2 separate regions of the Homo sapiens genome follow, and region 1 is linked to region 2. The links come from fine-mapping of genetic effects on gene expression. A gene starts in region 2. The other region holds a variant in brackets. All regions are shown on one strand. Distances are between the middles of the regions.

Evidence for each region.
Region 1: its variant is fine-mapped to the expression of LINC02363 in monocytes (BLUEPRINT, PIP 0.95).

Annotation. Positions count from the first base shown.
Region 1 is chr4:184,322,986-184,339,866 of GRCh38, reverse strand. No RefSeq gene overlaps it. Among named protein-coding and RNA genes, the nearest start is that of MYL12BP2, 17 kb to the right of the region's middle. RefSeq lists an enhancer at 11,303-11,862. The variant T/C (reference allele first, on the strand shown) is at 9,649.
Region 2 is chr4:184,347,089-184,361,433 of GRCh38, reverse strand. LINC02363 (long intergenic non-protein coding RNA 2363) reads left to right here and starts at 7,457. Exons shown (of 3, transcript NR_040108.1): 1 at 7,457-8,121; 2 at 11,156-11,345. RefSeq lists enhancers at 7,387-7,456, 13,537-13,886, 13,967-14,016, 13,764-14,058.

The DNA of each region.
Region 1 (16,881 bases), 23 kb after region 2:
TGCATTCCCAGGAGGTTAGGCATTCTTAGTCACAAGATGAGATAGGAAGTTGGCACAAGTTACAGGTCACAAAGACCTTGCTGATAAAACTGGATGCAGTAAAGAAGCTGGCCAAAACCCACCAAAACTAAGATAGTGATGAAAGTGACCTCTGGTTGTCCTTACTGCTCATTATATGCTAATTATAATGCATTAGCATGCTAAAAGACACTCCCACCAGTGCCATAACAGTTTACCAGTGCCATGGCAACATCAGGAAGTTACCCTATATGGCCTGAAAAGGGGAGGAACCCTCAGTTCCAGGAATTGCCCACCTCTTTCCTAGAAAACTCATGAATAAGTCACCCCTTGTTTAGCATAAAATCAAGAAGTAACAATAAGTATAAGCAGCTGAGCGGCCCATGCTGCTGCTCTGTCTATGGAGCAGCCATTCCTTTATTCCTTCACTTTCTTTGTTTTTTGTTTTTTGTTTTGTTTTTTTGTTTGTTTTGAGACAGAGTCTCACTGTGACACCTAGTTTGGACTGCAATGGCGCGATCTTGGCTCACTGAAACCTCCGCTTCCCAGGTTCAAACGATTCTCCTGCCTCAGCCTTCCGAGTAGCTGGGACTACAGGTGTGCACCACCATGCCTGGCTAATTTTTGTAGTTTTAGTAGAAATGAGGTTTCGCCATATTGGCCAGGCTGTTCTTGAACTCCTGACCTTAAGTGATCTGCCTGCTTTGGCCTCCCAATGTGCTGGGATTACAGGCTTCAACCACTGAGCCTGGCCTACTCCTTTGCTATCTTAATAAACTTGGTTTCAGCTTACTTTATGGACTCGCCCTAAATTCTTTCTTGTGCAAGGTCCAAGAACCTTCTCTTGGGGTCTGCATCAGGACCCCTTTCTGCCCTTTCTGGTAACAGTACCATAATAACAAATATTATCGAGCATATTTTCATGTAATTATTTGCAACTTGTATATCTTCTTTGGTAGAGTGTCTGTTAGAATATTTTGTCTATCTAAAAATTGGGTTTGTTTTCTTATTATTGAATTTTGAGAGTGTGTTATATGTTCTGGACACAAGCCCTTTATCAGAGATATGGTTTGCAAATATTTTCTTCTAGTCTGTGACTTTTCTCTCTTAACAATGTCTTTTGAAGAGCAGGTGTTTTAAATTTTGATGAAGTCAGATGTATCAATTTATGATTTTAATAAATCATGCTTTTAGCATAGTATTTAAGATACTTAACCCAAGGTCACAAGAGTTTTCTTTTAGAAGTTTTAGTTTTAGGTTTTGCATTTAGGTATATGATCCATTTTGAGTTAGTTTATATACATTGTGCAAGGTAAGGACTGAGGTTTTTAATTTTTGCATATAGATTACCACTTGTGCCAACCTCACTGTTGTGATGATATGATAGAAATCACTGTCTTTTCTCCACTGACTTGCTTTTGCATCTTTGTAAAAAGTTGGTCATGCCAATGAAACTGACCCAATTTTCCCATAGAACTGATGGGAAAAACTGTTTACAGTTTTGTTGTTGTTTTTTGTTTTTGTTTTTGTTTTTAATGAACATTGAAGTGGACTCTCCAGGTTTTAAAGCTTGAGAAACTTACATTTGTCTTATCTGAGTTTATTTCTCAGGAAACCAGCTGTCAGGCCTCCCAGATAGTATCAGAAAGCTGAAGATTTCCAGATCGCTGCATCCTAACAGCAAGGTGCCAGAACCCTGATTCAACTACCTACTGCCTGTTGAGCAACTCCTACATAAACTCCTAACTTTATTGGTTACAGAGACAGATTTTAGACTTGTCTCCCATATCCTGGCTGGCATCACCAGCAATAAAGCCTTTCTTCCTGGCAGTACTTGTTGTCTCAGTGATTGGCTTTCTGTGTGGTGAGCAATCAGACCTAAGCTGAATCCCTGGCATTCACCAACACATAAATGTGCAGTTCTGTTTCTGGACTCTCTCTTCTGCTTCATTGATCTGTTTTTCTAACTTTATGCCAAAATTGCACTAGTTTGATTACTGTTCCTTTATAATAAGCTTTGAAATAATGTCATATTAGGCCTCCAACTTTGTTCTTCTTTTTGAAAACTGTTTTGGCTATTTTAGGTCCTTGCATTTCCATAAAAGTATTAGAATCAGCTTATCAATTTCTCCAAAAAAAAAAAAAAAAGCCTACTGAGATTTTGATTGGGATTGCACTGGATTTATAGACCATTTTGGGGAGAACTGACATCTTAACAATATTGAGTCTTCCTCCCATGAACAAAGTATATTTCTTTATTTGTTTAGGTCTTCTTTAATTTTTCTCAACGATGTTGTATGGTTTTCAGTATATAGATCTTTCAGAGTTTTGTCAGATTAATTCTTAAGTATTTAATATTTTTGACCTAATTGTAAAAGGTATTATTTCTTTCCGTTTCAATTGCCAATGGGTTATTGCTAATATATAGAAATGCAATTGATTTTGCCTATAACTTTGCTAATAGTTCTAGTAGCTTTTTCATGTGAATTCCATTGGCTAGTCTACATAGCTCACTGACGCTCTGTTCATTAAAAGAATTTTTTCCCTCTGAGTTTCCTTTTAGGTAGCGTCTTTTGCTATGATTTCAATTTCACTTTTTTCCCCTTCTTCAATAGCTAATCTGCTACTAATCCTATAGTGTTTTTTTCATCTCAATATTGAACTTTCCATCTGTAGATGATTTGAGTCTTTTCTAAATCTTCCATGTCTCTATTTGACCTTTTAAACATATAGAATACAGCTATAGTAACTGTTTTAATGTCCTTTTCTGTTTATTCTACTGTCTGTGTCAGTTCTGGTTTGATTTCAGTTTATTGATTATTCTCTTCATTATGGCTAGTGTTTACCTCCTTCTTTTCATGATGAGTAATTTTTTATTTGATGCCAGCCACTATAATTTTATCTTGTTGGGTCTTGGGTTCTTTGCAATCTTATAAGTGTTCTTCAGCTTTGTTCTGCAATACAGTTAAGATACTTGGCAACACTTGAATACTTAAAGTCTTGCTTTTAAGATTTTTTAGGTGGTACTACAGCAGTGCTCAGTTTAGGCATAATTATTCCCCACTACTAAGTTAAGACCCTTCTGTGTACTCTATTTATTGCTTCATGAATCATGGTCTTAAATGTGGCTGGTAAGAATAGGTACTATTTCTAGCTGTGTCCGAGTATCAGACATTGTTTCTTCTAATCCACTCAGGTGGTTCTTTTGGCCTTGGGTAATTTTCTGTCATGCATGCACAAATCAATACTCAGAAGAATACTTAAGGAGGTCCCTCTGCAAAACCCTAGAACTCTGTGTGCACAAATCTCTCCTCTCTGGGAACCTGCTTGTGAGTTCTCACTGCTGTGGTTTTTCCAACCTTCAACTCTGTCTCCCCAACTCAGGGAGGCCTTGGGGCTCCACCAGGGTTCCCTCTCCCTATATCTTAGCCTCAAAACTCTTTCACAGTAGTAAATTTTGGCCACTGTATGGATGACATTATTTATGTCTCATCTCTTAAGTATCAAAGTATCATTATCCTTAATTGCCTGGTGTCCAGTACCTTAAAATTGCTATTTAATATATTTTGCTTTTTTTTTTTTTTCAGGGAGGAGGGTAAATCCAATCCATCTTGAATGAGCATATGTATTAGTTTTTATGCTCCTGATAAAGACATAGCTGAGGCTGAGCAATTTACAAAAGAAAGAGGTTTAATAGACTTATAGTTCCTTATGGCTGGGGAGGCCTCACAATCATGGCGGAAGGCAAGAAGGAGCAGGTCACATCTTACGTGGATGGCAGTAGGCAAAGAGTTTGTGCAGAGAAACTCACATTTTAAAACCATCAGATCTCCTGAGACCCACGAGAACAGCACAAGAAACAGCACGGGAAAGACGTGCCCCCATGATTCAACCATCTCCCACTGGGTCCCTCCAACAACATGTGGGAATTATGGGAGCTACAAGATGAGATTTCGGTGGGGACACAGAGCCAAACCATATCAGGGTAGAATGGTATTAAAGAAAAAGATTTTCTTACACTTATTAAGGCAGTAAGAAAGATTTATTCAAGATTATTGCAATAGGTATCAAGACTGTGCAATAGGAGACAGGAAATGGTTGAGCTCAACTCTGAATACAGCAAAAACCACTGGAGGTTTTTAGCCAGTGAGCAGAATGGGAGGAGAAGAGTCAGTGGATGGAAAATTACTAAGAGGAGAAATCAAAGGTGGGAGGATTTTCCCTAAACTGACTTAGCAGGACTCTTGTTACAATTGGACTAGGCAGGCTGAAGACAGGATGCAAGGACAAAGCTTGTTGAAAAGAGGCCTCAGAGGAGCTCATCTAAAATTTGGTCAAGGGGAGGGTCTTTCTTGGTCCCTCCTCTTGTTCAAGGGAAAAAGAGACATTCTTCTTTCCTTTGAACAATATAAGTCAATTTCTCATTTGGTGGCCTTTTTTTCATTAAGGACAAGCTGAGCCCCCTGCTGAAACTTGGTAGCAGGGCAGCCAGTTGAGAAGATTTCTAGATGTCAAGGCATCTTTAGATGATGGGGTGAGGACTGCAGTGGCCATCCCAGATCATGGATTTTCTGGTTTGCAGTTTGAATGTCCTTGGTGATGGCATAGACATCAGTGTCACAGTCATGGTTATTTTTCCGAGCAGAGTGTAGAAGTGTCCAACTTCATCTTGAAGGGCTTCTTTAGACAGTCACAATAAAGATCTGGGAAGTTAGGTTTTAGTTCTCAGTGATGCCAAATCAGGACAGTGGGAGAAAAATTAAAAACCTCAGTTTGGAGAGTGGTAGCCAGATAGTAAAGGGAACTAGAAGAACTGAGAATTTGGTAAGGACTGACAAGCTGTGCATGATGACAGGATCCCGTTCAATTTACAAGTAGATAACAAAACCTGAAAGACAAGTACAGGACCAGAATAATAACCCATAAGAAGGTGCTATAGTTTTTATAAAATATCTTTCTACAGTCATCCCCCTTTTTTGATCCAAATTAACCAAAGTAAGATTATTCTTGTTTACAAAATAAGTCTTGTCTCATTATATTTGACTTACTTATTTGCATAATTGCAGCAAGAATGGCAACTGACCAGGTAGGCTTATTTAAGTTTGCATTGCTGGAACTTTTTACAAGTAATCTCAGATTATGCTTTCAAGAGTTCTTGAAGCTATAAAGCCAAGTCAAGCACCACCAGGCCTTATCTGCAATGCCTAGAGATTCAGATGGGTTCTTCTCTTCTTGAGGTCCTAAAAACATCCTGAGTTTCTTTGGCCTGCCAGAAAGTCACCTTCCTGACTCACCTGTAAGGCTGGGAACTCCATAATCCAGGTACCAGGCAGACTTTCCGGGAGGGCTTCATATGCATTGGCTCCATAAAGTTAACCTTAGTTCCTCAAAACTGTCTGTTCATATGTGATTTTATGTCTTATTCTCAGTTGGAAATGCAGAAATCACCTGTCTTCTGCGTCGATCAGGCTGGGAGCTGCAGACCGGAGCTGTTCCTATTCGGCCATCTTGGAATGGACCCCCATGTCTTATTCTCAAATAAAACATTTTGGTCAAAGCCTTGATTATCTAATCAATTTTTAAAATTATGTTCTGTTACAAAAAGGACAGATTCTTATCGAACCCATATAAAATAGTATATCACCATTGATACGGTTTGGATCTGTGTCCCCACTCAAATCTGATGTTCAATTGTAATCTCCCAGTGTTAGAGGTGAGGCCTAGGGGGAGGTGATTGGATCATGGGGACATTTTCTCATGAATGTTTTAGCACTGTCCCCTTGGTGCTGCTCTTGTGCTGGTCAGTGAGTTATCGTGAGATATGGTTGTTTAAAAGTGTGTAGCAGCTGGACATGGTGGCTCACACCTGTAATCCCAGCATTTTGGGAGGCCAAGGTGGGCAGATCACCTGAGGTCGGGAGTTCGAGACTAGCCTGACCAACATGGAGAAACCCCATCTCCACTAAAAATACAAAGTTAGCTGGGTGTGGTGGCGGGCGCCTGTAGTCCCAGTTACTCGGGAGGCTGAGGCCGGAGAATCGCTTGAACCCGGGAGGCCGAGGTTGCCGTGAGCCGAGATCGTGCCACTGCATTCCAGCCTGGGTAACAAGAGTGAAACTCCGTCTCAAAAAAAAAAAAAGAAAGTGTGTAGCACCTTCCCACTCTCTCTTTCTTCCTTCTGCTCTGAGTATGTGATGCGCCTCACTCTCCTTTTGCCTTCCACATGACCGGAAGTTTCCTGAGGTCTCCGGAGAAGCAGAAGCTGCCACGCTTCCTGTGCAGCCTGCAGAGCCGTGAGCCAATTAAACCTCTTTTCTTTATAAATTACCCAGTCTCAGGTATTTCTTTATGGCAAAGTGTGAACAGACTAATACAACCATGAACATAAAAATACTCAGTAATAGTTTCTGAATTATGGAAGGATTAGGAAAAAAGATAAATGTTCCATTTTTGTTATAGAAATGTATCTACTAAATTGTTACATATTATAGCTAACTTAAGAGAAAAAGAAAAGGGGTTCCTTATGTCCAGAAAATAGAACATTAAGAACAAGCAATGTTCCAAACAAAAAGCCATAAAAATTATACTCCTTCTTTAGTTGATTCAGTCCTATGTAATTAATTCTTGTTTTGCTTGATCATGGGTTAGCAGTTTCATGAACTCAACTAGAGTTTCGAAAACCCTCACTCAGTCCAGCAGTATGATATTCAAGTTTTTTAGGCCATGTCAGTATCAGATGGGGGCTGGGGAGGTTGATGGGTAGAAAATTATTAAGAGAAGTAATTACCAAGAAAAATATCAAGGGGAGGGGAATTCTTGCTAAACTGACTTTAACAGGATTCTTGCTGAAGGCAGACCAGTGTGGTCAGAGGTCAAGGTTGAGGGACTCTCACTAAATTGGCTTAGCAGGATCCCTGCTAAAACTGGACTAGGCAGGCTGAAGCCTGGGTCCAGGGATGAGTCCTGTTAAAAAGAGGGCTGAGAGGGGCCTTCTAAAGTTTGGTCACTGAGACTGTCTTTGTCAAGGGCCCTTCCTATGTAGTATTTATGACGGTATTTTGTCTGGCATTAATAGAGTTAATATTGTGTGCCTTTCACAGCAAATCAAAAAATATCAGAGCATTTAAGAGTATCAAGATATCATGTTGACCTTGGAACTGATAGCTTGAAGCAAAAAAATAAAAAAATTGCTGCTTAATTCCTCTGATAAGCTCTTGAAATAACTGAACTCTAACCCTGGTAACCGTCACCTACTTCACAAGGTTGATGGAAGGCACAGGTAAGAAGAGAAAGCCATAACTGTTTGAAGATGGGCAGATTCTGACCAAGACTCCAGACTGTAAGGCCAGGAAAGAGAGAGGGCTTTCCTAAGTCTTGAGCCCAGGTGTATGCCTGGATCCCCAGTCTGGGCTCTGGCAAGAGACAATCAAAGATCCCAGCAAAAATATTACACTGTTCCAATTCATGGTTAAAAATGTTGGCATAGGTAGTGGTATTTATCTCTGGGTTTTTAATTGACAACCAGGAGCAGCGAGTTAATATTGAAGAGCCCTATTCAGGAATGAATATACACACTCCAGGGGTGGTCTGTTGGAATTTGAAAGACTATTAAGAGGCTCCTCCTTTGGGAGGCCGAGGCAGGCAGATCAGGAGGTCAGGAGATCGAGACCATCCTGGCTAACATGGTGAAAACCCATCTCTACTAAAAATACAAAGAATTAGCTTGGTGTGGTGGCACACGCCTGTATTCCCAGCTACTCGGGAGACTGAGGCAGGAGAATCGCTTGAACCTGGGAGGTGGAGGTTGCAGTGAGCCGAGATCATATCACTGCACTCCAGCCTGGGCGACAGAGCTGGACTCGGTCTCAAAAAAAAAAAAAAAAAAAGAAGAAGCAGCTCCTGCTCTAGAGAGTCAGCTATAAGAACTTCCTCTATCCTCAATGAACACCAACAGCTTTGCTATCTGGCATAATGGATTTTAGGAGTCATTTTCATTGGTGAAGTAAGAGTTGTTCAAAATATTATGGGCTGACTGGAAGCACTGTATCAGATTGCATCTCCTTGCATAAACAGGGTATTATGACCTAGAAAGCCTAGTGGATAATGTATGCCCTTCCAAATGCTGTCTCTGGTTTGGGATTTGAATCAGGACTTGTATCCACAGCTCATAGAAAGGTTCCTGCACCTGACCCTGACTAGACATGAAGCTAAATCATGCTGTTCGAGTACTGTCACATCTGCCTTAAGTGAATCTGTTATGTAAGGCACCTGTCAGTGTGCCAGCAGAACAAAGCACCAGTACTTGGTTGAGTTTACAGAACTGGTTGTACCACGTTTTTGAGCCTGCTGGCTTCTAAATGTTTATTTTATGGCCGAATTCCGTCTGAGACTTGCTTTCATTGTAACATACCACCTGGTATGAAGCTGAGGAGACCTATAGCCCTCACCTACATCTATTATGGGCCCACATACATGTGTTTGTGTTTCTTAGCTTAGGGAGGTTTCAGAAGCCCCGAGGCTGGAGTAAAGCATGGTTACGGACTCTTGTTGTAGCAGAAATGTTGCTTACTGTCTTTCTATGACCCTTTGTATTTCTGTGTATTGGTTCTTCACCACTAATAATAAACCGCCTCAGTTCTTTTCTTAGAAGGACGTTGAACACTAACTATACGGCATTGAGCTAGGGATGAATTAAAGGGGAGCTCCCTGGAACTCCAGGAACTGTTTTCAAAATGTGCCTGTTTGTGTTTATATGGTAACGTTTGGCTGAATCCATTTCACCTTCTGAGTAACACTTAAGGCAAAGCTGAAATTCTTGCTGTCAACAAAACCCCCAAGACTACAATTTCTACCCAGCCTCTTTCAAAAAGCATGGAAAACCTCCTCCATTCCAGCTTATTTTTGCATTGAGGCTGGTATTTCATTTGTTTGTTCTTTCGCTTTCTTTAAGCACCACTGCCCAGCAGTGTGGCGTGAGTACTGCTTGCTTTCTGCTCCCAGTCTCACTTTTTTTTTTTTTTTTTTTTGAGACAGAGTTTTGCTTTGTCACCCAGGCTAGAGTGCAGTGGTGTGATCTTGGCTCACTGCAGCCTCCACCTCCTGGGTTCAAGTGATTCTCCTGCCTCAGCCTCCTGAGTAGCAGGGATTACAGGTGTGCACCACCACACCCAGCTAATTTTTGCATTTTTTGTAGAGATGAGGTTTCACCATGTTGGTCAAGCTGGCCTCAAACTCCTGACTTCAGGTGATCTGCCTGCCTCAGCCTCCCAAAGTGTTGGGATTATGGGCGTGAGCCACCTCGCCTGGCCCCAGTCTCTCATCTTTGTACCACACATATAACTTTGGTTTTGTAAGTAAGAAAATGCTTACTCCTTGCTGTTGACTACACTGTGAGATTCCTTTTGAGAACCCCACAAATAAAGTCAATACAACCATCAGGAATCCTTAGACTCATTAAAATTCCAGACCCTGTAAAAACAATATTTCCTGTTGAATCTCAACATGAACAAAGAGTGATCAACTGAGAGTCAAACGTGACTGTGGGATGAGTGAGTTTGGACATTAACCACATGATGTGTAGAGGAGGCACATCTCTTGTTGACACTCGCTTGTCCATGTGACACTTCTGCT[T/C]TCCTGACACGCACTCATGGATACCACGAGTGTGTGTGTCATGGGAAGTGCACGCCACCGAGCGGGCGCGGGGGCTGACCGGGCTGGGTCACTGCAGTGAAAAGTCATGTGGAAAAAGCTACCATTCATTTAATTGTTTTCACTTCTCACCTTGAACTCAGCTTTGTGACCACTCTGTGAAAACAAAACCAACACAGGTATCCTGCCACAGAATCGCCATGTGTTAAAAGATTCCACAGAGGTGTGACTGGACAGCAAACAGCGTTTTTCAGAGAGCTCCCTGTTAGTGGCAAAATGAACATTCCCTTAGGAGGGCAGATCCCTTTTCTCAAAAGGCCAGAGGATGGGGATGCGGAAGGGGGTTGACTGTCTGATTGGGATTTATGCCAGTGGAATGCAGCCAAGTTGTGCTTATAAAGGCCTTATTCTTCCTCAGGTCAGAGCAGTACTACTGGGAGAGCCAAGGCGCTTCTCTGGATGCACTCAACTACAGGGATCTTTCTTTTGTACATGCTTGAATATTTACCATTAGGTTTGATGTAGTGGAAAGACTCCTGGATTTGGAATCGGAAACTCTGAACGAGAAGACACTTATTTTGTCACGGTACGGGAGGAAATGTATCTTCCTTGCCCATCTCAGGTTCAGGGCTGAGGCCCATATAAGAAAAGACAGATTAAGAAGAGAAAAGTATACACATTTAGTTAATCTAAGTTTTACTTGACACGGGAACCTTCATAAGGAAATGACCCAGAGAAACAGTTCAGCCTGGCTTCTTTTGTACAACAGGTTTGACGAGAAGTGGCCAGGTGTGCGGAAACGTGATTGGGGAAAGAGTGTGGTCTGATGGGAATAAACTGGGGGAAACTGAGCAAGGCCTGTTTGTTCAGCTTCTTCTTTGTCTTCAGAAATAAGGATGTTCCCTTTCTCCGGGTCTAGGGAGGGCACCGCTCACAGGAGGGTCTTACGATGACCTGCTTCAGGAGAAGGTCAGAAAATCCTTCTTAGGTTTTACGACCTGATTCAGCAGGCAAGGTGAGGGGAAAGGTGAGAGGGAGCTTCTTGCACGTGCCATCTCTCAGATTCCTTCAGCTTAAGATATTCAGTGTGTCAAGGTACCACAGTTTGGGGTAGCATGTCCTGAACCCTGTCATTACTTAACCATTCTGAGCCTAGAGCTGTCTTTTGTAAAATGCAGATAATATCCCACGCCTTACAGGACAGTTCAATCAGAGGAATAAATAAAAGTGCCTATGCAGGTACCTGGAGCATAGTACATGCTCAATAAATGTTTTTGCTCTCAATCTAATTTTAAAATTAATTATATCGGTGTAATCCTTCCATAGCTCTTATTTAATTTTTATGTTTGACTCCCCAAGGAGGTTGTAAATACATCCTAGAGGGAAGGGACCTTAGATTATCTTTTTATGAAAAGTCAACAGCAGTAAGTGAAAGAAATCACTGTACATTAAATTTTTTTGTCAAATGAATGTCACTGCTTTCTAAAAGTACTTAAAAAACACTGATATTATGCAACTTCCTCCTAGCTCTGGAGACATCCTGGAGGTTACCCTTATGACTCAACTAAGAAAGCCCCTCAGGACTGAGGATGGGACAACTGGGATGTAATTGGGAATTGAGGGGGTGATGGAGAGATCCACTCTCCATACTGTTCTCTAGGAACAGCGGGGACACACCTGCTGCTCTTGTTCATCAGCTCGTCAGCCATCAGGCTGCCCCTTTGCTCTTGCTTTTAATACACTAGCACCTGTGCAGGAAAACAGAAGAAAAGAACACACATTCTTCAGGCCTTTGTGATCCCTCCTGTGTTCATTCGAGTGAACTAGAGAACCAGAGCTGGGAAAACCCCCATGGCGATGCATGCAAAGACATGCACACAGGTGACTCCTGTCTGGGTACTAGCTGGAACAACAAACACTATGCTATACGTTCTCTGAGGTCCACGTGGTTGAACTTGAGTCTGAGAAAGCATCTTGTCTGATGGGTTCACCCAGAAGCATCTCAGGTCAGGACAGAAAAATCCTGACATCAGGAGCATCCATGCTGCTTTGCCTTGACCAACCGGTCACCCTGAGTGTGATGGAAACTAGATTTACTCTGGCTATTGAGGCATGGTCTTTCTCTTGCTCTCTTTAATAGAACTTCCTTCTTTCACTAACAATGAGGTTGAGAAAGTATGTTGAGGCTTAAATATTTCAACAAGACGGAGCGCCAAAAGCCAGGAGCTTCCCAGTATTTCTGAAGCTCTTTCCGCTTTTCCAGAATCAACCCCCTTTTTCTATTTACTGTCATCCATTAAAATATAATGCTCTGTCAACACCACTGTTTCTGTTTTGAATCTTCCAAGCCTGGGTTTGGTAAACAGTTTTCAATTCATTGACTGTTAATCATTCATTTATCTGCATGTTCAATGACACCAGCATTTGCTGTGTTCTTCCTATGTGCTGGTCGCCGGGTTTTACAGATGAACAAAATGAAGCTCAGAGGATAATCACTTCTCCAGTGGCAGCTGCTAAGCAGCAGAGCTGGGATTTGAAAGAAGCTACTCAGGCTTTAAGTCCCATGTATTTTATTCAATACACCTAATTTCAACATCTAGCAAAAATAGAAAACTGATGATAATCTACCTGTAATTATGGATACTTTCATTCTTTTTTTATTTTAATTTTTTTTGAGGCAGAGTCTTGCTCTGTGGCCCAGCCTGGAGTGGAGTGGTATGGTCTCGGCTTACTGCAACCTCTGCCTCCTGGGTTTGAGCAATTCTCCTGCCTCAGCCTCCTGAGTACTGGGACTACATGCATGTGCTACCACACCTAGCTAATTTTTGTATTTTTAGTAGAGACGGGGTTTTGCCACTTTGGCCAGGCTGGTCTCAAACTCCTGACCTTAGGTGATCTGCCTGCCTTGGCCTTCCAAAGTGCTGGGATTACAGGAGTGAGCCACTGCACCTGGCCTATCCTTTCACTCTTAAAGGAACTTTTCCAGCTATTCCACCCAACTGGCTGCCAGCGTTACCTTCCTAAATAACTTTGCCTTTATCATCTCTAGGTCAACATACCATCAGTTCAGGAGGAAAAAAATAGGTTTGAGATTAGAGATTGGGAATATTGGTTCAGACGCCAATTCTTAATTGCAAGATCTCCTATACTTTTAATTATACTTGTAGGGGAGGAAAAACATTTGTTCTCTGCTCTCCTGTGTTCAGTGGTTGGGGGCCCCAGGAATTAAATTCACACAAGACAGACTACCAAGAGAGAATAACAGATACAATTATGTATGCTGGCACAGGAATTCACAACGAAATGTGATTCGAAGAGGCATTTAGAATTTGGAGCTTATATAAACCATCTTAGGCTGGACAAAGGAAAGGGGATTTTGGGCTTCTGAGATGGGAGGTAAGTTATGGGAAGGTGAAGGGAGAAAATGTATAATAAACAAGTGTTGTTTAATAACGTTTGTTAGGCAGATAAGAGTCGCCTCAGGTGCTAAAAGTTGTCTCTGGAGTATTTCTCTTCCTGGTATGGGAAAGGGAGACACCCTTACAAATGGAAATTTATGTCCTGTTTTTAGACAGAATAGGGGATGGCAGACAGCGAATTGCCTTCAGCTCAAAACAATTCTTACGCCAAAGTGGCATATTTGGGGGTGGCACATTCTATTTCCCATTATACCCAAGATGCATGAATCTGAAGCCCTACTTTTTTGTTTTAGTACACATTACTTCCATTGTTATTTAGCTCTTTTCCAAGGCTATAAGCTACTTAAGGAGAAGAGAAGTGGTTTCTTTAGTTTTGTGTCTGTGGCATTCCCTCTTAAAAGCTACTGTTTATTTAGCACCCATGATATCTCATGTGCTTTATGTACATTACCCCCAGAACACTTTCAGTTAATATAAAAATCTCCATTTCACAGATGAAGACATTTACCCTCAGAGAGATTAATTGGTTTACTGAAATCATTCTGCAAATATGTCGCAGGGGACTCAGGATTTGTTCCTAGATCTTTGTATTAGTCAGCGTCTTCAAGAGAAACCGAACCAATAGAATGTGTATTTAGGTATATAGAGAGATTTATTTTAAGGAATTGGCTCATGTGATTATGGAGGCTGGCAAGTCCAACGTCTGCAGGGTGAACCAGCAGGCTGAAGACTCAGAGAGGAGCCAATCCTGCAGTCAAGTCTGAAGACTGTCTGCTACCAAAGTCCCTCTTGCTCGGGAGAAGGTCAGTCTTTTGTTCTATACAGGCCTTTGTGAACCCCCAACATTTGAGACAGGTCTAAGTTAATTTAGAAAGTTTATTTTGCTACAAAAATTAATCAGGCATGGTGGCAGGTGCTGGTAATCCCAGCTACTCAGGAGGCTGAAACAGGAGAATCACTTGAACCTGGGAGGCAGAGGTTGCAGTGAGCCAAGATCGTGCCACTGCACTCCAGCCTGGGCAACAGAGCAAGACTCCATCTCAAAAAAAAAAAAAAGAAGAAAAGAAAGAAAGTTTATTTTGCCAAGGTTGAGAACGCATGCCCATGACACAGCCTCAGGAGGTCCTGATGACATGTGCCCAAGGTGGTCAGAGCACACCTTGCTTTTGTACATTTTTAGGGGACATGAGACATCAATCAACATATGTAAAATGACTATTGGTTCAATTCGGAAAGGCGGGACAACTCGGAGCAGGCAGGGGGCTTCCAGGTCACAGGTAGGTGTGAGACAAACGGTTCCATTCTTTTGAGTTTCGGATTAGCCTTTCCAAAGGAAGCAATCAGATCTGCATTTATCTCAGTGAGCAGAGGGATGACTTTGAATAGAATGGGAGGGAGGTTTGCCCTAAGCAGTTCCCAGCTTGAATTTTCCTTTAGCTTAGTGATTTTGACGGCCCAGGATATTTTCCTTTCACACCTTCAGCTGATTAGATGGGGCCCACCACATGGGGAAGGGCAATCTGCTTTGCTCCAAGTCCCTCATTTTAAAGGTTAATCTCATCCAAAAGACCCTCACAGAAACGTCCAGATTCATGTTAAGCCACATATCGGCACACTGGCCCAGCCAAGTGGACAGAAAATTAACCATCAGCATTTTCTGGTAGGAAATTTCACACTCACTTCTTTTTATCACATTAAGGTTCTTCTCAACGTAGGTTAGTTGGTGACCTTGAGTCAAGTTCAAGCCATGCATGTTAACCTGGAGCAAAAGCCCCCCCTCCCCATCTTACGTGAAATGTGTAATCACCAATTTCAGGTCTTTGTTTACAGATAAAATTTCTAAGGGATTTTCTGTCTCTGGAAACTTAAAAGGCCAACCTGATGTGGGTGTTTTTTCATTTGTTTTGTTTTGTTTTGTTTTTGAGCGGAGTCTCGCTTTGTTGCCCAGGCTGGAGTGCAGTGGTGCGATCTCGGCTCACTGCAAGCTCCGCTTTCCAGGTTCACGCCATTCTCCTGCCTCAGCCTCCCGAGTAGATGGGACTACAAGCACCCGCCACCAAGCCCAGCTAATTTTTTTTTTGTATTTTTAGTAGAGACAGGGTTTCGCCATGTTAGCCAGGATGGTCTCGATCTCCTGATTTCATGATCTGCCCACCTCGGCCTCCCAAAGTGCTGGGATTACAGGTGTGAGTGGGTGTTTTTAAAGAGTAGAGACATTCTCAAAGGATCCTGTCTCTGGAGCCAGCTTTAGGGACCTCTTGGTTAGTTCTGGAAGACAATCTAATACAAGGAAGTGGAAGAGAAGAGAAGAGAGATTAGGTTTTTATATTTAAGCAAAGCCACTTTATTCTTACTTTCTGAAATGAGAGAAAAGGGAAATGTAGATAGATTGATCATGGGCCAGTACATTGATAGCATGTATAATTAAGTTTTCCTAAAGTTGCAGTTATATTTTAGCCTGCTTTAGATGGCAGTTTTGCTTTCAAGATATTTAATTTTTTTTTATTAAAACCAAAAGCAAAGGCTTTAAGAAAACTAATTTCCCAGAATGTGTTTCTGTGATTCTGGAAGCTTTTCCTGGTGGGGCTGAGATCGGAAGCAGAGCCGTCAGGCCAGCAGAATGGGGGGGAGGGGCCGTGGAGATGGAGGAGATGGGCTTGTGAGTGCTCTGGGATGGAAAAGCCGTGGGAACACAGTCTAGTCTGTCCTTTCAGCCAAAGACCCCCAGGCGGAACTCTATGGCTCAAGGTGTTCCAAGTCGTCATTTATTTTCATATTTGTACTTTTTATTGTGATGAAATAGACATAAAATTTGCCATTTGAACCACTTTTAGGAGGCCGGTACACTGGCATTGATTACATTCACAATGCTGTGCAACCATTGCCACCATCTATTTCCAAAAATGTTTTCATTATTTTCATCATCCCAAACAGAAGCTCCATATCCAGTAAACAGCAGCTCTCTCTCCCCTCAGTCCCTGGTAACGTCTCTTCAACCTTCTGCCTCTATGAAGTTGCCAATTCTAGGTTCCTTGTATGAGCAGAATCATTCAGTGTTTCTTTTTTGGGTCTGGCTTCTTTCGCTTAGCAGCATGTTTCCAATCAATGTTCATCCATGTCGTAGCCTGTGTCAGAACTTCATTCCTTTTTTTGCTTGTTTGTTTTTTGTTTTTTGAGATGGAGTCTTGCTCTGTCACCAAGCTGGAGTGCAGTGATGCTATCTCGGCTCACTGCAACCTCGGCCTCCTGGGTTCAAGCGATTCTCCTGCCTCAGCCTCCTGAGTAGCTGGGACTACAGGTGCGTGCCACCACGCCCAGCTAAATTTTGTATTTTTAGTAGAGGTGGGGTTTCACCATGTTGGCCAGGATAGTCTCAATCTCTTGACCTCAGGATCCTCCCACCTCGGGCTCCCAAAGTGCTGGGATTACAGGTGTGAGCCACTGCGCCCAGCCCTTCATTCCTTTTTATGGCTGAATAATATCCCATTGTAGGGATACATTTGTTTATGCATTTCTTTCTTTCTTTTTTTTTTTTTTTGGTTAGACAGAGTCTCGCTCTATTGCCCAGGCTGGAGTGCAGTGGCATGATCTCAGCTCACTGCAACCTCCACCTCCCGGGTTCAAGCGATTCTCTTGCCTCAGCCTCCCAAGTAGCTGGGATTACAGGCACCTACCACCACACCTGGCTAATTTTTGTGTTTTTAGTAGAGACGGGGTTTCACCATGTTGGCCAGGCTGGTCTTGAACTCCTGACCTTGTGACTCACCTGTCTTGGCCTCCCAAAGTGCTGGGATTA
Region 2 (14,345 bases):
ATTTCTTTTGTAAATTATATTTACAAAATTATAAAATAGGCAGCTAATAAACATATGGAAAAAGTATGATAGAGATGTTTTAAGCAGTTATTTAAAGAAAAATCTTAATTTTTTGGACTTCACGTTTGTGTTATTTGCCATTTTTTAAAAAATTATTTATTGTCTTGTGTTCTTTTCTTATTCTAAATATTAACACTCATATATAATTTTATATTTATAATCTTACTTTTTTTCCTTAAACAGGATGCCTCAAATTTTATAAGCTTTGGGATCCCACAAATCCTGAATCTCCCTGTCTCCTTCTTTAACCCACCCAAACCGGACTGGAATTTCTATTTTTCCCTCCTCTACTTTCCCATATTGAGGACCTGACTTGGGAAGAAGGTAGCCTGCACTGTTATCTAACTTGACAGATAGTTGTTGACCAGGGCAAAACGTTTATGCTAGGTTTTCTTTGGATTTACGTTTTGGGAGCTCAAAGCATGAATGAGCTTTGATGTAGTGGCAGAAATGCTGCTTGGGCAGGGAGTCACGCCTCATTCATTCTTCAGTGGGGAAAGGGCTGATGAGTGGGTTTGTGGATAACAGGGGAGGCAATAGCATGGGTTCCCAGACTTTAAAGAGGCCTATTAAATCGAAAGTTATCCTGGGTTTTGGAGCAAGGGAAGTAAAACTTCCTTTCTATTTTCAAACAATTTCATGCATCCATGACAAAGAAATATTGAAGATGTGGCCTCTTGGGAACTGGGAGCACCAGAAGTTGATTTTATGTAACATTTTCAGAAATAACTGTGGAATAGAATTGTTCAGTGAATTTTCCAAGTCTACAGTGTCATCGAAATCTTTCATTAATTGAATAACGATGTTAAACTGTAGAAAGAACTTTCAAGATCCCAAGAATGGGTAAAATGATGTTGGATTCCCTTAGCCCTGCAATATGAAGTTAGGTGAATGAGGGAAAGCAGCCAAGCAGCTCAGACCCTGCCTCTAACATAATTTCACCTGTGACTCTTGTTATACCCTGAAGACATGCGCTGGAAGGAATCCTAACACAGGCCTGTGGGTATTATTGGGAAGGACAAGGAAAAGAGAAAAGGGGTAGCACTTAAAACAGAAAATCGATGAGTCCCTGCTCCTGACATGTTGCCAGTTGCCCCCATGAAGTTAGGGGAGCAGAGAAAGAAACCAGTGTGATTGAATGGATCTTCAAATGGAGAACAGATGTTGTTACATGTTTACTTGTTCACAGCAGTATCTTTAAGTCTGAAAAATGGAAAGCTTCCAGGTCACAAAGAATGCGAAGGAACTCAGTCAAAGCTAAGGATCCTATGATGTGTGGGAATTTATGGGCAAATTCTCGAAGCTCAAAGGAGGTAGCTTACAGGCCGATGAGGGTATGTACTATCTCACACTGTGGAGAGCAGGCTCTGGGGACTCTGGCACATAAACAACAACAACAACGTAGGGTAGGGAAGGGCTGTGTGTGTAAACAAATAAACAACCTCTGCGTACATATCATTATTTTTTCCTAGTCCCAAGGATTCCTCAGATGCCTCGGAGGGAGGAATAGGAACTTCAAAGTGATGCTCAGCTGTGCGAGGAAATGTGAAGTCTGTTATTCAGAGAAGTGAGAAAGAGCCTGTCTTTGGAAGCAGGACCTGGATTTGAATCTAAGCTCAGCCGCTTACTACCCTCTGTGGACTTAACCTCTCTGAATTTCAATTTTCTTATCTGTAGCATGGCCATGAGAATCCTTTTCTCCACAAACTCACAAGATGTTGTCAGGATTAAATAAGATAATATATCTAGGACTTGATAGACTGCAGTCAATAGATGACAAATCTTTTTTTTTTTTTTTTTTTTTTTTGAGACAGTCTCCCTCTGTCGCCCAGGCTGAAGTGCAATGTCACGATCTCAGCTCAGTGCAACCTCTGCCTCCCGGGTTCAAGTGATTCTCCTGCCTTAGTCTCCGAGTAGCTGGGATTATAGGCACCCACCACCACGCCCAGCTAATTTTTTTAGTATTTTTAGTAGAGATGGGGTTTCACCATGTTGGTCAGGCTGGTCTCGAACTCCTGACCTCAGGCGATCCACCCGTTTCAGCCTCCAAAAGTGCTGGGATTATCACAGTGAGCCACTGTGCCTGGCTGACGGCATATCTTATGAACTCATTTTCACCTATACCTTCCTAAGGCCTTTGTTACAAATAAATTATAAAATACGTGTATGTTTACATGCGAGCATTTTCATCTGAAGTCATTGGTTCATGGCCGTGCTCTATTTATTTATTATGTATGAGGGACATGCTGGCAGGGGTCCTTCCTGTAATTCCATCCCACTGCTGCCTCCAAATGCAATTGCAAATCTTCCATTCTGTCAAACCTTATGAAATTATTTCCATCAACAAATGTCAGCTTTGGAATTCTCCTTATAAAAGCTCATTTCAGGCTTCCTTGGAATTCTTAAATAACTAAGCAAGCATTTGAGATCTGATACGCACAGGAAAGCACTGGCATAGGAAGAGATAATCTGCCTTAAATGCATACACACTCACAAAACAGACATTGTTCTCAGCACTTTCTTTTAATATTTTGGGGGCCAGGCTACCTAGTCAAATGCTGCACAGTAGGCTTCTTCTGAAATCAGCCTCCAGCAAGGGATTAGCACCAATTCTGAGAGCTGCCATTTATTTTGTTTACAGTCCCTGTGCAGTTTTGGAACACTGTGTTCCCTTTCTTGTAAGGGCACAACAGCAACACGGCCATGTGGCACTGGACAGGCTCCCCACTTCATGCTAGAGTTTCCTTTGGGCTGGCATTTTTTGCAAACAGCTTTGGGGCCTCTAGCTATCTGGTACAAAGGAAAAAGCATGGGCTTTAGAGGCATTCAAACAAACCTGGGCTCACCTTCTGCTGTCGTGTGCTATGTGCTTACTTAATCTGACTCTTAGTTTGTTTTTGTTTTCTTCTGCAAAAGGGAAATAATAAAATTATAGTCTTTGTAGGAGCAATGTGAGGACTGAATAAGACAATGAGTGTAAAGCACCCATGATAGTGCCCGGCAATGTGAAACACTCCAATAAATGAAGTAATTATTTTAATAATGGCAGTTAGGGAATGTGCAATGTGCTTTTCTTTGTTGTGATTTCCAGTACCAAACTGCTCTGCCTTTGCTTAAAGAATTCAAAGACACACATAAAAATGTTTCACTGTACAAGGTTCTGCTCAATGATATGACTCTTAGCAGTAGTAACTATCTTTTCAAATGCTCTGGTGGCCTGGCAAAAAGGCTGTATTAGTGACAAGTTGGTTACTCTCTGAATTCCTGCGGCCTTTTTAACCTATCTGGAGAAAGACAAGGCACACTTCCCTGGTTTGTTAACTGTGAAGAAGCAGAAGTGAAGAGAAGTGGACCTCGTACTGATGATGACATGAACACTTACAAGAATCCAAAACAGCTGTTGTAACTCTGCAGCTCACCCTTGGCATGGCTAAAGAGGGGTGGGTGTGGCCAGATTATATGTTGTTGATATGCACAGTCATGTGCAATGGACACTCACTTTTCAATGAATATGTTTTCTACAAACTTCTTGCACACGGGAGTTACTCTATCAAGGTGAGTGTACCATGCTTACTGTTAGTGTCCTGAGAAGGCTTACTGCGGTGAGTCTCATCAGTGGGGATGAGTGGGTGGGTGTTCGCTGTGTGTGTGCCAGGCATTTACTCTAGGAGGCTGGTGGCAAGCATCCCACAGCATGGTGGTGGGGCATGCATCATATGGCACGTAGGAAGGAGAGCACAGCTTAGAATTGCATAGGCCAGGACTCCAGTCTTAGCTCGGCTGCTCATCAGCTACCTTGAAGGAGCTATCTAACCTTGCACCTCATTTTAAAATAAAAACAATAATGTCTACCTTGCAGAGCTGTTGTTACTATTATAAATAAAAACTGTACTGTATTTTGCACAGTGCCTAGTATAATGAATTAACAATAAATCATGGCTTATATTTGCCATTCCTTAAAAATAATCTAGATTTACATAGGAGAGTGATGGGGCCACAGGGCAAGCTAACTCATTATGTAAATAAACAGATCTCTGAGCAGGTCTGCTTACCTTCAGCATTGAATCCAGCCATTATATCATTAGTAGCTACTCACAGAGGAAAAAGAACACCTAGAGTTAATTACTAAGTGAAATCCTGGCCAGGGCCTAGTTCCACAGCAAATCTTCTCGACACCTGAGCCTGCCCTGGGCCCTGCATATGCTGAGGTGTTCATCTATCATTGAGCACCAGAGGAACATGCTTTCCTTTCATAAGGACCTCCCATGTTGGTTGGCCTCCTTGGTGAATGAGCACTGGAAACAGGATGAGCTGGGCAGACCTAGCCTCATCCATCTTTGCTGCATCCCCACAGGAAGGACCATCTCCCAGCTCCAAAGTACTGCTCCAAATGAATGTAATACAGATCAAGACAGCAAAGCATGGTCTTATGGACCTGCTGGGACTAGGAGCGGTTTGATCATCTGTGGAGCTATCCCACAGGCTGGGGCTGGGTAGAATCCATAGTGTAAGTGACATGGTGGCCAAAGGTTGGATGTTCATCAGGGAATTCTGCTCCCCTTCTCTGTTGCTGGGAAGTGGCTGCTCAGCCAGAGAAGATGTTTTCAAGAGACACCTGCATCTACTTAATAATTTGGGCCAGGTGACAGTTCTGGCCATGGGAAGCTAGGAGGAAGTGATGTATGACACTTCCACACCTGGCCCACAAAACGCTCCGGCCCATCCTTTGCTCTCTGATCCTATCTGTTGGCAGCAGTGCTGGGGACATGCCCGTAGGATGGCAGAGCCTGTCTCGGCATAGGCTCCACAGGATTGTCTGGCACGTCCCTCATTCTTGCCTTGCGCCAATTCCTGCATGAGTGGGAAGTGAATTTCTATTGTGTTTCATCACTGAGGTTTGGGGCTTTTGTGTGGTAGAAGCCACGTTACCTTAATTCAAGGTGATTTGTGATTCACTTTCTCCAGAATGTCAGCCCAGGCATGCTGGAGATTTGGCTCTGTAGTGACCAGATAATTGAGGGTATCTGGTAGGGGATTACCCCAGGTAAGACCAAGTTACTTTGAGCCAACACTCAGTACCTGTTGACACATTTCAGGACAAGAAGGAAGCTTGACGTTTAAAAGTTAATCCTGTGGCCTTGATGCTGAGTGAATTTATAATGCAGAATAAGCCCCAAAAAGAGACATCTATTTACTACAAATTTTTATTATTTACTTATTGTTATTATCTTTTGAGACAGGGTCTGCTTTTGTCACCTAGGCTGGAGTACAGTGGCATAATCACGACTCACTGCAGGCTTGACCTCCCTGCCTTAAATGATCCTCCCACCTCAGCCTCCTGAGTATCTGGGACTACAGGCTGGCTAATTTTTAAACTTTTTGTAGAGACAGGTTTTCACCACGTTGTCCAGGCTGGTCTCAAACTCCTGGACTCAAATGATCCACCCACCTCGGCTTCCCCAAGTGCTAGGATTACAGGCGTGAGCCATCGTGCCCAGCCTACTACAAATTTTAAAGGCTCTTTCTTGGAATTTCATTATCCAAGTAAACATTTTGGGAGTTACCTGCTCCATAATTATTTATTGATAGATTTATTTAACTGGAAAAGAAACACCAAGGCCTTTATATTCCCCATCCTAGTTTATGCAAAATTGGTTAGATGTCTTAAGCAAAGAAAAAAATAGTCCTAACAACCACTTGAATTTCTAAATGCCTTAAACAATACCTATAGGCTACTAAACTGGCCAGATAATATTACAAAATTGGCTGTGCTGTGTTTTTCATTTCAACCCTTTCTCTGTAAGGAAGGGTCCCCAGAAAAGAACAGTTCACTTTCACTTCAGTAACTGGTGGAGATTATCCTCCCTTCCTTTTTCAGACTGTCCCATAGACTTCTTGCACTGGGAAATTTGCCAAGTTCCTCACATTTTAGCCACATAAGGCAAAACTCACCGGAAACATGCATTTCCCTTCTCTTCCAGCAACAATGACTTTACCCAGAGTCACCAGGAAGTCCTGTCCACTGTCAGCTGTGCAGTATGTGTGTGTGTGTGTGTGTGTGTTTCACCCAAAATGTGGCATGAAACAGACTTACATAAAAAACAACAGAAAGGCCTTTTTGCAGCACTGCTTGGAAACCCCCATCCTGCTTGATAAGCCTTCTTCGCTGTGTTGCCCCTGCAGGGGCCACTCCTGCCTAAGCTGGGTGGTGGTCCCCCACCTCACCTGTGGGCAGCTCATCCTGGAGGACACAGCATGGGTGAGGGGGTGCCTATTCTCAGTTGTCCCTAGGCACAAAAATTCTGCTACTTTTCTTTTTTAGGAAAGTGATTCCCTTCCAGAAAATATTTTTTTCTTGCTTCAAGTAGAATACTTTTTTTTTTTTTTTTTTAAATACAGGGTCTCACTGTGTCACCCCGGCTGGAGTGTAGTGGCACCATCACGGCTCACTGCAGCCTTGGCCTCCTCAGGCTCAAGTGATCCTCCTTTCTCAGCCTCCTGAGTAGCTGGGGCTATAGGTGAGCACAACCACTCTCAGTTAATTTTTGTATTTTTTGTAGAGATGGGGTTTTGCCGTGTTGCCCAGGCTGGTCTTGAACTCCTGGACTCAAGCGATCTACCCACTTCGACCTCACAAAATGAGGGCTTACAGGTGTGAGCCACTGCACCCGGCCAGCACTCTCAGAATTGATCCTTGTCATGTTCCTCTCACCCATCACTGTAGCTGAAGCCCTGGAGAAGCCACTGATTACCCTCTAATCGTCCTAGGTGTTGGTTTCTCTGTTAACATAATGTCTATAATCGGAACTCTTAACCAGGAAAACTTCCCAAACAATATAAATTCAGTGAAAATATGTGCACTGCTCATACCTGGTTCCCCCGGTACTGTTGCTGCATAAGAAGTCACCCCTTAATTTAGTGGTTTAAAAAGATCATCTTATTTATGCTCTCAGAGTCTGTGGGTTTGGAATTTATTTTATTTTATTTAATTAATTAATTAATTAATTATTTAAGATGGAGTCTCACTCTGTCACCCAGGCTGGAGTGCAATGGCACGATCTCCGCTCACTGCAACCTCTGCCTCCTGGGTTCAAGCGATTTTCCTGCCTCAGCCTCTTGAGTAGCTGAGATTACAGGCAAGTGCCACCATGCCCGGCTAATTTTTTTCTATTTTTAGTAGAGACGGGGTTTCACCATATTGGTCAGGCTGGTCTTGCACTCTTGACCTCGTGATCCGCCTGCCTCAGCCTCCCAAAGTGCTGGGATTACAGGCATGAGCCACCACACCTGGCGGGTTTGGAATTTAGACAGCAGGAGTGGCTTGTCTCTGCTGCATGACAGCTGGGGCTGTGACCACTGTGGGTAACGCAGCAGCTGGGGTGTATTATGGTCTAACGGCTCCTTTCCTTATATGTCTAACCCTGGCCTGGAGCACTGGAGGATGAGGTCCGCTGACTGCAGCGTCCATCCTGGTCCTCCCCAGGCACTGTGGCCTCCCTCACAGCATGGCTGCCTTGGGTACTCGGACTTCACGTGGAAGGCCAGGGCTCCGAGAGCAAATGCCCCAGCAAGACAGAAGCTCAGCCGCCTTTGATGACCTAGAAGCTAGGCAGCATCCATTGTACTGCCTTCTATGGGTTGTGAGTGAGTCCCAAACCTGCCTTGACTCAAGGAAACGGAATTAGGCTCTACGTCTTGACTAGGTAGTGGCGAAGTTCTGGAAGCACATGAGTAGGAGATACTGTGACGGTTTCATCTTTGGAAAATACCATCTAGCACACCTGAATCTGCTTTCAGGGGGTGTAAGGGGATTTCCATGGCAAAATTTGAAGCCACATGTGGTCACTGCTTTGTACTGAGGAAACAAAGTGCTCTGGGCATCCAGAAAGGGGGTACGTTTTTTCTTACTGGGATAAATCTGGCTGCATTTTAGCTAATCCTGGAAAATTGATCGACAAAAGCAAAGGACCAAGAAAGCTGCTTATATCAGTGTCTCCTCCACCCTCAGCCTCCAGTAGCATCCCTACGTTTTACAATTTTATTTATGTCACTTTAAATAAGGTAAGCTCTCCTTTGCTGTTCTGGTGTATTTAGACATACACGTATTTTGCTGTCTTGGGTTCTCGTGATAATACTCTTACATCTTTGCACGCTTCATTTTGACCCCTTCCTACTACTTTGATTTTCCCATGACTTTATTCAAAATTTGGAGAGAATAACCCACTCGGCTCTCTTCTCCCTGGTTGCTTTCTCCACTCATTCTAGCTACCTCTGCTCCATAAAATTATGCTCAATCAAGTATCACATTATTTTTATCTTTAGTTGTATGTGTCGTTCCTGTGTCAAAGAGCTTACCCTGTGGGTGCTGTCCAGCCATCTTGAACATTTTGCAAGGCAAATTTATTTATTTATTTATTTATTTTGAGACATGGTCTCACTGTGTCACCCAGGCTGGAGTGCAGTGGTGTGATCATGGCTCACTGCAGCCTCTAACTTCTGGGCTCAAGCAATCCTCCCACCTTAGCCTCCCAAGTAGCCGGGACTTCAGGCAGGCACCGCCATGCCCAGCTAAGTTTTTAAATTTTTTTCTAGAGACGAGGTCTCACTATGCTGCCCAGGGTGGTCTTGGGCTTCTGGGCTCAAGTAATCCTCTTGCTCTGGCCTCTTAAAATGCTGGGATTACAGGCGAGGGCCACCGTGCCCGACCTGGCAAATTTATTGAAAATTGGGGCAATATTGAATCATCTTTGTATCCCACTGACTAGCAAGAAGGTAAGATACCATGGCTGGCTCAACACAGCTACTACCTAGAAATACACTTCTGTGTTATTCAAACCAGGAGTCAGGAAGGAAAACTAATTGAAAAATACCTTCTGAGTATCTGAATTGGGCAATTGCTATGGGGAACAGAATGACAAAGAAGCAGTACCCCACTCCCCAGAGGAGCTTCCCATCTGCTGGGGGTGCCAAAGCATGAACACATAGAAAGGTGAATAACCACAGCGTGGCAGGCAGGATAATGACACCCCTAAAATGTCCACATCCTGATCCCCGGACCTGTGAGCATTAGCTTACATGACAAAAGGGATTTCGCAGATGAGATTAAGTTAAAGATCTGAGATGGGAAGATGAGTCTAGACTATCCAGGTGGGCCCAGTGTAGTCACAGGGTCCTGATAAGTGGACAAAAGAGTCAAGATAGTTGGAGTTAATGCGAGTTAAGACCGGACATGGCTCTCTTTGGAAGACGAGAGGGGCCTTGAACCAAGGAGTGAGAGCATCTCTAGAAGCTGGCCAAGGCGGGAGGGAACACAGCCCTGTCTACACCCTGATTTTAGTCCAGTGAGACCTAACTTGGACTTCTGACCTTCAGACTGTAGGATAACACAGTTGGGTTGTTTTAAGCCACTAAGCTTGTGGAAATTTGCTATAGTAGCATTTGGAAACTAATACAAATAGCAAAGTTAAATGAGATAAGAATCCAGAAAAAAAGTGTCATAGGTCAATAAGCCAGAAATCGCCGCATACTGGAGCTTCTACTGCAATCTCATACGTTCATCCGCCTCATCGCCCATGAAAACTCTCGTTTCTGGAAAACGAAGGGTGAAAAATAATTAGCTCATGGGAAAAGTAGAGGTGGGCAGACCATTCAAAACTTAACGGAACTTATAACCAGAGCCTTGTTACTATTACCAAGAACAGTAACGATGCTAGTTGAAATATCAGTATAATCGATACAGTTAAATCTCCACTGGCGTCACATCTCCCTCCCACCGTACATCCTTTGCAGTTTTATACCCTGGGCTTCTGATTTCCTCCTTGCAAATGAAGTGTTCTTTTTTTTTTCAACTTTTATTTTAGAATTAGGGGGTACGTGGGCAAGTTTATTACAAAGCTGTAATTTCATGATGCTGAGGTTTGGAGCACACATGAATCTGTCACCCAGGTAGTGAGCATAGTACCCAATAGATAGTAGTTTTTAACCCTTAACCCCCTCTCCTTCTCCTGCTTTTTGTATTCCCCAGTATCTACTGTTCCCATTTTTTGACCATGTGTACCCAATGTTTAGCTCCCACTTACAAGTGAAAACATGCGATATTTGGTTTTCTGTTTCTGAGTTAATTAACTTAGAATAATGTCCTCCAGTGCATCCATGTTGCTGCAAAGGATGTGATCTCATTCTTTTTTATGGCTGCGTAGTATTCCACAGTGTATATGTGCCACATTTTCTTTATGACATTTCTTTCTGAGACCGACCTGCTTCATTAAAATAAAAAATACAACCTGAAGGTAGCCTGTTTGGCCAAGCATTTCTTTTTAAACACCGGGGGATACGTCTTTGCAGATTCTTCATCTTCATTTGCAACTTTCCCAGATTAAAAAAAAAAAGTCCAGTTTAAAAGTATAAAGCACTCATGGAAGACACTTCTGCTGGTAGTCCGATTTTTTTCTTAAAGTTTTCAAACAGTGCTAAAGTTTTCTATTTAATTCTGAAAACCCTACTGCTCATGGCCTCAAAATATTAATCTGCTTGGAAAAACTGATGAACAGCAAACTGTAATTGGTAGATGCCATGAGGGCTGTTGGTTTAAATGAGGGTGGGAGCAGGTTGGGGAGGCCTCTTGCTGGAGGTGGGCTCAAGCTGAGCCTGGAGAATGAGTCAGACGGGAGCTTACAGCATCACTTTCCAGGTGGAAGGAGGAAAATATGGTGCCCGATCCAACATGGGGTGTCCCTGGTGGGCTTTGTTTGGCTCAGACACCCCAGTTGGTGTAGTCCTATTGGCCAGAGCAGCCGCTCTCCCACACCCACAGCTGCTGTTGGTCCTGGGCTTGGGCCTGGAGAAGCCCCTCTTCAGGAGGCTGGGCCAGCCCTATTCTCACACCTAGAGATAGCGCAGCTCCCTCTCTTGGCGTTCAAGCCTCTTGGCCCCTAATTCCCCCTTCAAAGCAGCCTCCTGAGCTTTTGAGGGATTGTCACTCTTGGAGGAAATAAAAACGTAGAAAAATATAGCAGAGCACTCTAGGGAATATGTACTTTCTCAACTTTTCTAGCCACCATCCTTTAAGCAATTATAATGCTTCCGGCTATCACAGGACATTGAGAGGGAAAAGGCCTCATCGACATACCAACTACAGGCCAGGTGGACCTTCGGTGCACACACACCCCAGCGCCCACAGAGATCCAGGCCTCCTGTGTATGAATGTGTGCCATGAATTTAGACCTATTTCTCGCCTTCCGGGCTCTCTATTCCTCATCCTCCATCCAAGTGGCCATCTTGTGCAGGTAATTCTTTTCTCTCCCCTCACCCTTTCCCCCTGCTTCTCCCTACTCTCCCTCCCCCTGTTTCTCTCTGAGTCTCTTTCCCCCTTCTGCCTTCCAGTGCATCCTCTGCAATTTGAGGTGACCCTCTTCTCCAGCTGCTGCTGCAGAACCCCAAGTGTGGTCCCCACACCCCCTCACGGTACACTTCAGCAGGAAGGTGCTTCTGCGTCCCCCTGTCCTCATCCTCCACTGCAGCTGTCCTGCTTCATCTCTTCCTCCTGGACTCAGGTTGGCCTTGGGCCCTGCTCCAAAAGGAGCACATTCACCACAGCTTCAGACTTCCTCCTGCTGCCGCTGCTCCTCGGAAGCAAACCTGGTGACTGCTGATGTCCAGGCCTAGACCATGCCTGGCAGAGCAGCCATGGGGTGGAGAAACAAGTCCTCAAGAGGGCTGCGAGGAGAGGCACAGAGACGGTCAGGGAAACTGAGGTCACACAACTGGGAATAAGAAGGTGGGGTGCTGGGGGGCTTGTCAATGTGGTTCTTCCACAGAGGATGGAAAGCCCCTTCATTTCTGCCCAAGAAAGTATCTTCAGCATTCACCGAAATCTCCCCAAGAGGGAAGCGCCGCAGGAAGGGGAACTAGGAAGGAAATACAAGCTGGTGCTTACTCCATCCCCGTCACAAAGAGGCTCAGAGAGAGACTTGGGAACGATATGCATATGCAATTTTTTAAATCACTCATTCAAGAAATAATAATGAAAAATGAGTTATAGGCAATGGATTAGTAAGTGCTGATCAGATTGACTATGTAAGTGAATTACATTCAAATTACATGTGAAGGAGCTCTATCAAGGGCAATTATGGGTCCTTCGAGAGGCTTTAAAAAGAGGAGGGATGAAACTTGGTTAAAATGGGGGCTCGTTAAAGGCAAGAGGAGTACAGAATGGTTGAGGTAACTTTCTCTGTGCCCCACTGTCAGCCCTGCTCTGCCAAGCAGGCTTGCAGGTGGGGATATTTGCTTGCTCTGGGTTCAGCAAGTCCTTGTGCTGCCTTGCCTAACCTGCTTCCGAGGTATCGGGTTTTAAGCTGGTGTGGCAAGAATGATATTGGCCTTTGTGTTCTAAAGGAGTGGCATGAAGCACAGTGGACCTTGATCTTCAATTGACGCCACAGTCTCCCTAATCCACTGATCTCCAATCATCCCACTAGATTAGCCACCCTATCAGGCAGTATTTTTCCATGTCCCATGTGCTCAAGGACGAAGCTTTAAAAGCAAGCTTGGAAGCTTATGCGATGCAGTACAGTGTCGGGGGTTGGCAGGGGAGAGAAAAGCAAAGGACTTACATTTGTTTTAGAAATTGCTGCCAAAAGATAAGCTTGTCTGTGCAACTATATGACTTCTGACACTGAGGCAGGGAGGATTGTGAAACCAGGATAGACAGAATTTCAGCCAGCAAATAAGTACACGTTCACTTTAGCCAGGGGGTGGGGTGGGGAGGCGGCTGGGAAGGGACTGAGTTTATGAAGAGGCCTAGAGTAATAGTTTCTGAAGCATTACTTATCTAGTGCTAGGCGGCAGAGTTCATTTTGTTTGTATGCGGTGATTACTTGCAGTCTACATGCAGAAAACCAGTTTATCTAATGAAGCGCAGGACTACAAATAGAGGTTTCTTAATAGAACCAGGCGACTGCCATGGGCCTCACCCTGACCGCTGGGTCACAGAGCCTTACCATCGGGGACTAGGCTTTGGGAGGCACTGAGGCAAGTTGGAGAATTAGAAAAGGAGTCAGCCATGAGTTATGTCCTGGCTATTACCGAGAGATAATCTAAAAAATGAAAATAAAGCTGCATATCAGGAGTTGGAAGCAATGTTTTACTGAAGGGCAGTCCGGAGACATGCATTTTGTTTCCAGGTGTTCAAATGCACTTCCTCTTGCTGAGGGGGCCCGAAAGCCTCCCGCTGGCTGCTCTGGGTCCCAGGTGCGTCCAGACGTTGCCAGACACACCTCTGTCAGGTGAGGCAGGCTCCAAGGGAGGAGGCCTTGGCTTTGTTAATTTTGCAGAAGAGCAGGGACTTTCATGACAATTTTTTTGATCTAATGACAAGCTATTTCCTCTACCATTAGTGTCCCGAAGGGCAAATTCTAAAGCCAAGGCCATTTGATAAAGCCTGGGGAATTTATTGCAAGGCAGATGGACACAGCAGCAGCACATAAGAGCACACGCGTGGGGCTCCAGCCCGGCCACGGGGAGACCTTTTCTCAGCAAAGGGCAGCACTGCTCGCTTTGCTGGGGCAGCCCTCCCAGGAAGATCCCAGAAGAGATGGTCTGAGGTGTGTGAACACTGTGAATGTCATGGACAAAGCTCAGCGTGGGACCCCATGGGACTTCAGGTTATTAAGATGTAAATGTTGGCCAAAAGCTTATGTGTGAATTTTATTTTTAAGTTGTGACTTCCTTCCTCTCTGCCTGGGCCAGTGCACAAGCAGGAGGAGGGAGAGTCGGTATTACTCTGCAAGAGCTGTTTCTCCAGGTTTCTGGGTGTGTTCTTGAGTGAATAGAAATCTGACACCACTGAGAATTCACTGACAAAGGCTTTCCGTCTGCAAGGCAGTGTGTCACGCACTGGCCCTGACCAATCCCATTTGGAGCTGAAGACTCCAGAACATGGCGGAAGGTCATTTCTGCAGCAGTGTTAGCTGTTCCACAGCTCAAAGAGGAACTAAAATTAAAGACAGGAAAGCAACATTGTGAAAATGCCTATGGCAGCCACTGAGAGTTACAAAACAGCCTCAACTATCTCCTAAGAAATGATCACTGGGGATGCATGTTTTCAAACTCTCATTGGATGCCCTGTATGCACCTGTTGTAAAGTCGAGAAATCACACCAGCACCAGCACTGCTTTCCTGATCACCTGTTGAAAATGTAATGGACACGAAATACCAAAAACGGGATTAAATTCCCCACCAAGAGGACATCCTTTTCGTGTCAGCGGCTTCCCAGTAGCAGTTTTTCA